Homo sapiens: one gene and its partners. The protein of the gene in region 1 interacts with the protein of each later gene in a pairwise test. Each region holds a gene or a part of one and is shown on either strand. Other genes may lie near its edges. The genes, in order: ZC2HC1C, YWHAG and CHAT.

Evidence for each region.
Region 2: the proteins of ZC2HC1C (region 1) and YWHAG interact in binary tests that used the Homo sapiens proteins (3 or more experiments, as listed by UniProt).
Region 3: the proteins of ZC2HC1C (region 1) and CHAT interact in binary tests that used the Homo sapiens proteins (3 or more experiments, as listed by UniProt).

The regions. Positions count from the first base shown.
Region 1 is NC_000014.9:75,072,488-75,076,140, reverse strand, and holds part of ZC2HC1C (zinc finger C2HC domain-containing protein 1C), read right to left. Parts: intron 1-3,653.
Region 2 is NC_000007.14:76,348,839-76,352,491, reverse strand, and holds part of YWHAG (14-3-3 protein gamma), read left to right. Parts: intron 1-3,653. UniProt on the Homo sapiens protein: Adapter protein implicated in the regulation of a large spectrum of both general and specialized signaling pathways. Binds to a large number of partners, usually by recognition of a phosphoserine or phosphothreonine motif.
Region 3 is NC_000010.11:49,616,884-49,620,536, forward strand, and holds part of CHAT (choline O-acetyltransferase), read left to right. Parts: intron 1-2,841; coding exon 2,842-3,033; intron 3,034-3,611; coding exon 3,612-3,653. UniProt on the Homo sapiens protein: Catalyzes the reversible synthesis of acetylcholine (ACh) from acetyl CoA and choline at cholinergic synapses.

The DNA of each region.
Region 1 (3,653 bases):
AAGAGTTGCAGAAGGAACAGAGAAAGCACGAGGAGAAAATTATTGTTGTTTTGTTTTGTTTTGTTTTTGTTGTTGTTGTTATTTGAGATGGAGTCTTGCTTTGTCACCCAGGCTGGAGTGCAGTGGCGCAATCTTGGTTGACTGCAACGTCAGCCTCCTAGATTCAAGCGATTCTCCTATCTCAGCCTCCCAAGTAGCTGAGACTACAGGCGTGCGCCACCACGCCCGGCTAATTTTTGTATTTTTAGTAGAGATGGGGTTTCACCATATTGGTCAGGCTGGTCTTGAACACATGAGATCAGGTGATCCACCTGCCTCAGCCTCCCAAAGTACTGGGATTATAGGCGTGAGCCACAGCACCTGGTGAGGAGAAAATTATTAAGGAAATAATACAATTAACATTCCTAGAATTAAAGGTCACACATTTTGAGATTGAAATGGCTTACCAAGTATCTAGCACAATTATTGTAAAGTTTCAGAATTTCAAAATAAATAGAGAATCCCGTAGCCTTTTAAAAAAAAAGGTTTCTTGTAATGGAACAGGAATCAAAATGGCATTAGATTTCACAACAATACACTGGATGCTAAAAGCTAGTGGGAAATACTTTAAAAGTTCTAACAGATAATCATTTTCCTCCTAGAATTCTGTACCTAGCCAAATCATCAAATGGGAGCCTGTCATATAGATAGTGTCATTCATTCCAAGACAATATACCTGCTATGCACCCTTCTTAGTAAGCTTCAGCAAAGGAAGGAGTAATGCAAGAAAAAGGAAGACACAGGATGCTGGAAACAGAGGACCCAACAAAGAAGAGAAGCAAAGAGAAGTTCCAAGAGAATGAGTTTGCACCAGGCCTAGAGAATACCCAGTCCAGGTTGGAGCAGAAGGGATCAGAGTGGCTGAAGGGAGGTTTTCAGAATTAAAAAATCAAACTGATAGATTATGAGAGGTGTTTGAGCATTACAAAAACGTTAACAGATGTCTGATATCAGATGGATCGTTGCGGGGGAGAAAAAGACAGGTATGTAGAAAATGAAGGAAATGAAAACATACGTCCATTATTAATTTTAGGTACATGTGGGCAGAGACAGAATTTGTTCACTCATTAATGAACAAAATTTACTTGATCATTACAATGTGAAAGCTAACTACTTTTAACCAAAAATTGTGATTCGACTACAGTGGAAGGATAAGAGAAAGAGAACAGTAGGAGAGAGGGAATATGAAAGAGAACTTCACTCCCAGCTTCCATAAGAAGTTACCAGGTAGAACAGGCACCGTGGCTCACGCCTGTAATCCCAGCACTCTGGGAGGCCGAGGTGGGCAGATGACTTGAGGTTAGGAGTTCAGGACCAACTTGGCCAACTTGGTGAAACCCTGTCTTAACTAAAAATACAAAAATTAGCCGGGCGTGGTGGCACTCGCCTGTAAGCCCAGCTACTCAGGAGGCTGAGGCACAATAATTGCTTGAACACGGGAGGTGAAGGTTGCAGTAAGCCAAGATCAAGCCACTGCACTCCAGCCTGGGCGACAGAGACTCCGTCTCAAAAAAAACAAAACAAAACAAAAAAAAACAGGTAATGTAGAAAATTGATAAATCAAGAAAATAAGCATATTATTTGGAAATATGGAAAGGCAGACCAGAAGAACCATCTAACAGAACTGAAGGCTGCCTCCGGGGGCTGAATTAGGGGTTCCATTATAGGTCATTCAGTACTACATGTTTTTTAAATGCATGCAAACACTATTAAATTTTTTAAAGAGAAAAAAGACAACTAGCTCTTGGTGATCTGGCATTGTTAATGATGAATAATAGGAAGAGATACTATCAAAGGAAAAGAAAGGATCCTTCCAGAAAGTCTCTTGCCAAAACAGACAAGAAGGCAAGAGAGTATTAGCGATGGTATCCAGGAACCTTTAAAAGAATTCGAAGACCAGGCACGGTGGCTCATGCATGTAATCCCAACATTTTGGGAGGCTGAGGCGTGTGGATCACAAGGTCAGGAGTTCAAGACCAGCCTGGGCAAGATGGTGAAACCCCGTCTCTACTAAACATACAAAAATTAGCTGGGTGTGGTGGCGGGCACCTGTAATCCCAGCTACTCAGGAGACTGAGGCAGAGAATTGCTTGAACCCGGTAGGTGGAGGCTGCAGTGAGCCAAGATCGCTGCAGTGAGCCGAGATCGCGTCACTGCACTCCAGCCTGGGCAACAGGGCGAGACTCGGTCTCAAAAAAAGAATTTGATCAGGGGAAAGTTCCTCTCAAAGAATTTGATCAGGGGAAAGTTCCTCAAGTATATGAGATCCTTTAGTAATTTACTTCTTATACTCTAATTCCTATAATTTTATTCCTCATTGTACTGAAATTCTATTCAGTTAACACTTATTAAGCACAAAGCACAAAATATGTTCCCTGTCCTCAAAAATGCTTACAGTCCAGGAGAGAGACAGGGTGTACGTCTGCTGGGAGTTACGTGAAGATTAAAGGATACCAGGAAAATCACCTGTTCTTGAGTACTCTAGAGGAATGACAGGAAGGTACAACCACTCAGCTTCCAAAGGCACAGCACTGTGGAATAAGATTTGAGACATTACCAGGGTGGTGCAGGTGCATCTTAGTCTAGGTCCCTTCTGTCTTGGTGTCCTCAATGTCACACATTCCCACAAACTAGTTGCCATAAAGCTGGAGCATCTGATCTCAGGAACCTAATTATTTTGCTTCACCGTAACTGTATTTACGAATTTAAGAAACACAAGATTCTTTTAGGCTCTGGCCAAAAATAAATCGCTACAGTGGGACATAGAGTGAATTCCCAGTGGATTACTGGGTTGAACTGAAAGAAAACAGGAAAAAACAGTAAGTGGTGATCATATTATTATCTGCAAGAGCAAAATGCTGATTTCTTCTTTGGAAACTAGATTTCAGGGAGATGATCTCTGAACATGGATGGGACTTCCTTGTGATTTCTCCAAACTACTAAAAGAAAGAACTCTAATTGTAAACAATTTCTTCTAACAACCATCATATAAATGTGAGTTTTTAAAGGCTCCAGCAAATACACAGAAACTGTAAAGTGCCAATGGACAAGAGGTGCCAGCACAGCGGAGGGAGGGTTGGGAAGAAATGAAAACAGAATGACACTCTCTTATTCTTCTGGAATATTAGAACTAGATGGGGCCTCTGAGATCATATGATCTACGCTTTCCCAAACTTCAATCATCTGCACTTTCACTTCATCCTTACAACTAATTAATATTTTTCTGTAAATTCATGATCCCTGGAAATCAGGGGCTTAATATATTGTTATATTTTCCTAATATAACACTAAACGACGAATCAATTTTTCTAATACAACACTAAACACTAAAACTACTAAAATAAAGTTTGTCAGCATGCCACACCTTGAGAAATAACCATTTTATAAACCAAGTGGCACAACCTTGACATGTCATTCATTTATGAGACAATCTTCTCCAGATATGTCCAAATGTGCCTATGAAGTTCACCTAAATTTATCATGTAAGTGTCACGAAACCCTTACTTTTTCCAACCTGGTTTTTCTAAAGTGAGAAATAATTGGCAAGGGCATGGTTTGTAAGATAACCAGAAAGAAAGTCCTTTTTACCTTCAAGGTGTTTACATTCTAAATGG
Region 2 (3,653 bases), on another chromosome or scaffold:
GGTACCCAGCTTTCCTCTGAGCAGGGGTGTCCGAGTTGGGAGTATGACAGTGACAGCAGTGGCCAGCTGAACACGTAATGACAGTAGCTGAAGAGGAGTCACTGATCCACCCCCAACCTGCCGCAAGCTGAGTATGAAGAGCAGCTGCCGTGGGCAGGGAAGTGAGGAATGGCTAAGGGAGCGAGGGGAAGGCTTTAAAAAGCCAGGTTTCTTTTGAAGCCGTAGAGATGATTTACATTTCTTGAGCTGTCTGAAAGGAATTACTCATATGACTCTAAAGCTACCATATTTAAAAAACCCAGATCTGGGAAACAAAATGCCTATGGTGCTAGTTCTTTAAGAATGTAGAAATCAGCTTGAATTTTTGACTGTTTCTATACAGACTGCTTTTGTAGCAATCTAACATGAAGCAGTGAGCATGTCTTTGCAGTGGAGGTGCAGCATAGTGAGTAGCCATGCGGATAACCCCATACTCATTGGCAGTATGTTATAATGTGAGGGCCCGCCTGGCCTGGGTAGGCTAAAGAGCAGTGGTCCCCAACCTTTTTGGCACCAGGGACCCGTTTCATGGAAGACAGTTTTTCCATGGACTGGGTGGGGTGAGGGGTAAGGGGATGGTTTGGGGATGAATCAAGCACATTGCATTTATTGTGCACTTTATTATTGCTACATTGTAGTATGTAATGTAATAATTATACAACTCACCGTAATGTAGGATCAGTGGGAGCCCTGAGCTTGTTCTACAATTAGATGGTCCCGTCTGGGGGTGATGGGAGACAGTGACAGATCATCAGGCATTAGATTCTCATAAGGACCATGCAGCCTACATCCCTTTTGTGTGCAGTTCACAGTAGAGTTGGCACTCCTTTGAGAATCTAATGCCACCGCTGATCTGACAGGAGGCGGAGCTCAGGTGGTAATTCGAGCAGTGGGGAGTGACAGACTTCCTGCTCTGCAGCCAGGTTCGTGACAGGCCATGGACCCGTTGGGGACCCCTACTATAGAGAATAGATGTTATTATTTTCAAACCTTCACATTGGGTCTTGTATCTGTGTAATAGAGGTTAAGACTGGAAGTTATTTTTCCTACTAGGTTGAAAAGACCCTACTCAGAAAGGCGAGAAGAATGAACAGGAGAGGAGAATACGAACAACAGAAAAGGGCATTCCAAGGCGAGGAAAGCTAGTGGGGACAAGGGAGTAGGGAAGGAATATTCTAGAATATCTTGGATCTTGGAATGCCATGCCTATTTAAGGGAGTCTGTAGTCTTTGGAAGGCTGTGAACAATGGGATTGACTACTGAAGACAAAAATGTTGGTGGCCTTTCAGGATGCTAGAAATTTCGGGGGGAAATGACAAGAAGAATCACCATAATGATTCACATGCAGGGATATTTCCATCGTGTCTTTTTCTACAGTTTATATTCTTTTGCACCTTGCTTTTTTCACTTGACATCATTTCAATGATATTCTGTCATTATTTTCAGTAGCTGAATAATCCTGTGGATATATCATAATTTAATTATTTTTTTGCTTAGTATTCAGGCTGTTTCCAAATTTACATTGTAAATAATATTGATGTGTGGGTATAGATGGTCCCTGATTTCAGATGGTTTAACTTAACGATTTTTCTTTTCTCTTTTCTTTTTTTTGAGACAGTCTTGCTCTATTGCTCAGGGTGGAGTGCAGTGGCGCGATCTCAGCTTACTACCACCTCTGCCTCCTGAGTTCCAGCGATTCTCCTGCCTCAGCTTCCCAAGTAGCTGGGATTACAGGCATGTACCACCACGCCCGGCTAATTTTTGTATTTTTAGTAGAAATGGGGTTTCCCCATGTTGGCCAGGCTGGTCTCCAACTCCTGGCCTCAGGTGATGTGCCCGCCTTGGCCTCTGGAAGTGCTGGGGTTACAGGCATGAGCCACTGCGCCTGACCTTAACCTGACAATTTTTCAACTTTATGATGGTGCAAAAGCAGTAGGCATTCAGTAAGCTCCTCCACTTAGGATGGTCATGTCCCCATAAATGAGTTGTACATGGAGGAGTATCTGGTATCTTTCAGGCACAATTCGTACGTTAAGACAGACCCAAGAGGGGAATTGCTGGAAAACCAGCTAAGAATAATGTTTAAGGTCCTCACTAGTACAGGACCTTGAAAGTTTTGAAAGATGTGTTTGAATAGGTATTATGTATACATGTTTCAGAATTCAAAAGGCACCCATTGCCCTTTGTCCTCTAGGAAGGAAAATGAGGTTGAAGCAGGGGTAGGCTCGATGCCAGCTTATTTGAGGCAAGGGCCCATCTCCCTTATGCTTCTTTGGAGTGATTGCCTTTTTTTTCCCTTTGACTAATGGAAACTTTCAAACATACAAAATAAAGACAAATAGTACAGTAACCCCCGTACACCCAGCTTCACCATTTTTCAGCACATCGGTCTTTTATCTGTATTTTCTTACTCTTCTGGCCTCCTCGGGGATTATTTACCAATTTGGAAGATGGCTTTTTGGAGACAGTCTTGCTCTGTTGCCCAGGCTGGGGTACAGTGGTGCAATCTCAACTCACTGCAACCTCCCCCTCCTGGATTCAAGCAATTCTCCTACCTCAGCCTCCCCAGTAGCTGGGATTACAGGTGCCCACCACCACGCCTGGCTAATTTTTGCATTTTTAATAGAGACCAGGTTTCACCATGTTAGCCAGGCTGATCTCGAACTCCTGACCTCAAGTGATCCACCTGCAGGCATGTTTTTGTTTTTCATCGTTTGCTGGCCATGTAGAAAAAGACTTCAGATGTTTGGAACTTGATCTATTTATTGAGGAAGGGCAAACAATATGGCACAACTTCAAACAAAGCTATCATTAACAGATTAAATTTTTACAACTTACATAGAATGTATTTCTACCAACATTATTTGGAGCTGTGGCATGTAGATTCTCAAAAACACTTGCTGAGTGAATTACAACTACCTGTTACTTTCATTTTTTGGTACCCTGTTGCATTTTGATCTTGGTTTTCTCTTTTCATCATCTGGCTGTGTGTGTGTGTGTGTGTGTGTCTGTGTGTGTGTGTGTGTGTGTGTGTATTAATAAATGATGACCAAAACGCGTCTGGACCGCAATGGAAAACTTAACGGTACTTTTTGGTATTTTTTTTTTTTTTTTTGAGACAGAGTCTGCTCTGTCGCCCAGGCTGGAGTGCAGTGGCGCGATCTCAGCTCACTGCAAGCTCTGCCTCCCAGATTCACGCCATTCTGCCTCAGCCTCCCGAGTAGCTGGGACTACAGGCGCCCACCACCACGCCCGGCTAACTTTTTGTATTTTTAGTAGAGATGAGGTTTCACCGTGTTAGCCAGGATGGTCTCAATCTTCTGACCTCGTGATCCACCTACCTCGGCCTCCCAAAGTGCTGGGATTACAGGCATGAGCCACCACACCCGGCCGGGAAGACGAGATTTTTTAAATTACACACTTAGATGAAATATTGTAATATAGTTTGACGTTTACTGTCACCTTGGGAAGCATTTTTATGTACTTTTCCCATTTAATTTCACAACAGTTTTATAAAGTGATAATCTTCTGATTTTAAAGGTGGAAATGTTTAATTTGCCTTAAAATTTTTTTTTTCAAAGTCTAAGGCTCATGGTTTGTAATCCCAGCACTTT
Region 3 (3,653 bases), on another chromosome or scaffold:
CTTCATCCCAGCTTCCACTTCTGATAGCTTTGAGCCCAGTGATTTTGCCTTAGGGTGGGGCTGAATTCCTACTCCAAGCCCTGCAAGTCCCAGCTCCAGCTGCTATCACTAGTTCAGCCTTGGAGCCTTAGGCACCATGTTCTCCACTGGCCTGAGACAATGCCATCCTCCCTGGGCAGGCATCCTCCCTCCCGCCCCAGCCAGCCTTCGGGTGGCAGAGCAACACACCTGACTTCAGGTGGTTGCATGTGTTTCCCCTCTCCCACACTTGTCTTTTTGCCACTCCTCTTCCCCCTTCCCCCTTCCCCTTTCCCCCAGCCCTCATTTGAAACCCTGAGCAGAATTTTCTGGCTTCTCCCCAAGAAGCTGTTCACTCCATTGCCCTGAATTCTGCAGCTGACAAACATCTATTGTCACCTCTGGTCCACTGGCATGCTTCTCTACCCACCCCATTGGGCTGTGGCTTCCTTCAGAGCAGGCTCTGTTTCTCCATCGTCTCTGAGTCCAGCCCAGGATCTGACTCACATGAACTGCCCAGGAAACATGGAGTTTTGGAGCATTGATCTGAGACTCCCAGGTCCAAAGACACTCCTTAGCACAGGGCCAGAAGTCCAGGAGAGTCTGGGGAGGATCCCTGGGGGGTTGAGATGTCTGAGCTGCGATTTCCTGCTTTATTCCTTTTTACCCACTGCTGATTCCCTGTTAGCCAGGCTAAGTCACAGCGCACTGTCAGAGCCTGGAAGAAGGGGAGCAGTGTCTGGCAGAGGATCTAGCCAGACTTGTGGGCCCTTTTGGCCAGGTCACTAACTGGGCTGGGCTTTCTGTAGGTGCTCACCCACCCATCACACAGACCACCCCCCCCACCGCAAGAGATGGAAGAACAAGATCAGCTGGGTTGGGGGCCCAGACCTGGCTCACTGGGGTTGGGCAGGGCAGTCTGGGATGCTGTCCAGATCCATCCTCGCATCATTCCCCAGGGCAGGAGCAGCCCGTAGTTGGCACTGACACCCCACTGTTGCCAGAGAAGTGAACCCTAGAGGCAGGATCAGACAGGCAGAGGGCCGTCATTCATCCATCAGCAGCAGGGGCAGAGAAGGAGGTGCTTTTAAGGGGCCCATTCACTCTGCAGCCTATGGGGAGGAACCCTTTACTGTCTCATGGAAACTCATCACTGCACAAAGAAGCCCCTGAAGGAAGGTGCCTCACTGTCTACCAGTGTGTCCCAGGAACCATATTGCAGAATTCTGGTCATTAGGGCAGCAATGAATTATGTCTCTTATCCAAAGCCATCTTTTATCCTTCCAAATCTCTCCACAAGAGTACACCCTTCAGGTCCGGAGATCAGCTAGATTCTGGAGCCCCAGCTGAGAACAGTTTATAAATTAAGACTGACCAGGAGACAACAATATCAATAACAGGACTATTTCATCTTAGATCTATCCTTTATGGCTTAAAAGCACTTTCACGTACATTAGCTCTTTAATCCTATGAAAGGCAGGGTTTGCTACCCCCATTTTACAGGAGAAGAAACTGTACAATTTAAGCAATATTATTATAAGTTCTGCCTTCCTATTGTCACTGGCCAAGTGAGGGACAAGAAGAGGAAACGAATGGAAAAGGGAGTGAAAGGGAAGGGAGAGAACGACCCAGGAGAAAGAAGCAGAGTGGACATGGAAGACTGATTTTAGCTCCTAGTCTGCCATCAGATTTGTATGTGACCTTGGACCAGCTGCTCCACTCTCTGGGACTCAGTTTCCTCATTCATAAATGGGAAGTCACAAAATTGAAGCCACACAGAAGCCTTCTGTGGTGAACGCTGCTGGTGAACTGAGAGGCACAGCATGCGTATAGAAGGGTGGAGTTGGGGGTTCTTCCTAGACTCTAGCCACACTTTGGGGCCCCCAAAGAATATGGGTTTCCTCTTGGGAATTCCTCTGGAAGTATAAGATAGCGAGGTCATAACATTTTAGATGTGCCTATTTGAGGCCAGTTGTTCCCCCATTTAATTCTCTCTGTGTTCCTCTCAGGTAGGAATTGTTATTTATGTCCTATGGATGAGGAGCAGAGGCTTGGAGAGATTCGGAGAGGAAGGACATCCACTGCATCCCCACCCCTGCCCCTAACACCCACATGAAACAAAATTCCCTGCCTGGGTTTTATAAGTAGGAGGGACTTATAAGAAGCTCAGGGCATGAATCATCTTCTGAGGAACCCTCTTTTAGAATTCTAGTCATTAGGGCAGCACTGAATTATGTCTCTCATCCAAAACCATCTTTTATCCTTCCAAATCTCTCCCTAAGAGTGCCCCCTTCAGGTCCAGAGATCAATCAGATTCTGGAGCCCCAGCTGGGAACAATCTCTAAATTAAGAGTCACCAGCAGCCAACAATATCAATAACAGGACTATTTCATCTTAGATCCATCCTTTATGGCTTAAAAGCACTTTCATATCTATTTTCTGTTTGATCCTATGAGAGATAGGGGTTACTACTCCCATTCTACAGAGGAAGAAACTGAGGCACAGAGGGAGGCTGATTTGCCCAAGTTTGCAGAGCTGGTCAGTGGCAGGGTCAGGGTAGAAACCCAGGTCTGTCTGATGCCAATATCACCGTATTTTCCTCTGCACTTTATCCCTTTCTGGGGACAGAGCACAATGAGGTCAGGGACGCCAAACAGGAACTTCCTAAATTCATAATTTTGCTGAGCTGAGCCCTAGAAATGGAGGGGTCCCAGGGTAGAGAACAACACAGGGGCAGAACAATACAGATACTAGGGACCAACTTGGGGACAGGCATGGGGCGCACATACTAGAGGCACAATGCCTATGAACCCTTTCTTCCAGGGGCTGCCCAAACTGCCCGTGCCCCCGCTGCAGCAGACCCTGGCCACGTACCTGCAGTGCATGCGACACTTGGTGTCTGAGGAGCAGTTCAGGAAGAGCCAGGCCATTGTGCAGCAGTTTGGGGCCCCTGGTGGCCTCGGCGAGACCCTGCAGCAGAAACTCCTGGAGCGGCAGGAGAAGACAGCCAACTGGGTAAGAGGGGCAGACAAGGAACCCATAGAAGAGGGGCGGGAGGCAGACCTGGAGACAGAGGGATCTCGGTGAGAGGCAGGTAGGGGACAAAGACAGGGCAGAAGGAGAGATGAGGGACAGGGATGGGGGATAGGTGTGGGAACAGGCAGGTGGCATGGATTGGAGGACAGGAAGGGACAAGGATGAGAAACAAACAAGATGAGGAATGGGAAATACGGATAGAGAAAGAGGCGGACAAATCGGGGACAGGAATTGGGACAGATGAGGACAGAGATCGCATTAGGAAAGAAGAGAGGGTGAAAGGCAGGAAGAAGACACCTGTAAGGACAGGCAGAGGACAGCGATGTAGCACCAAGCCACCAGGATGGGGACTGGGACAGAAGAAAGGAGACAGGAGGGCACAAAGGTGAAGGACAGGCCTGGTGGACTGGGAAGCTCCTGGCACATACCTGGGGCTTAGCATATATTTGTGGAATGAATGAATTAATGCTCTGGTGAAGTGTCCCGATTTTCTCTCGGGGCTGTCAGGATGGGACTGTTTGGGGGGATGTGACGGCCTTCCCTGCCCTCCCCGGCAGGTGTCTGAGTACTGGCTGAATGACATGTATCTCAACAACCGC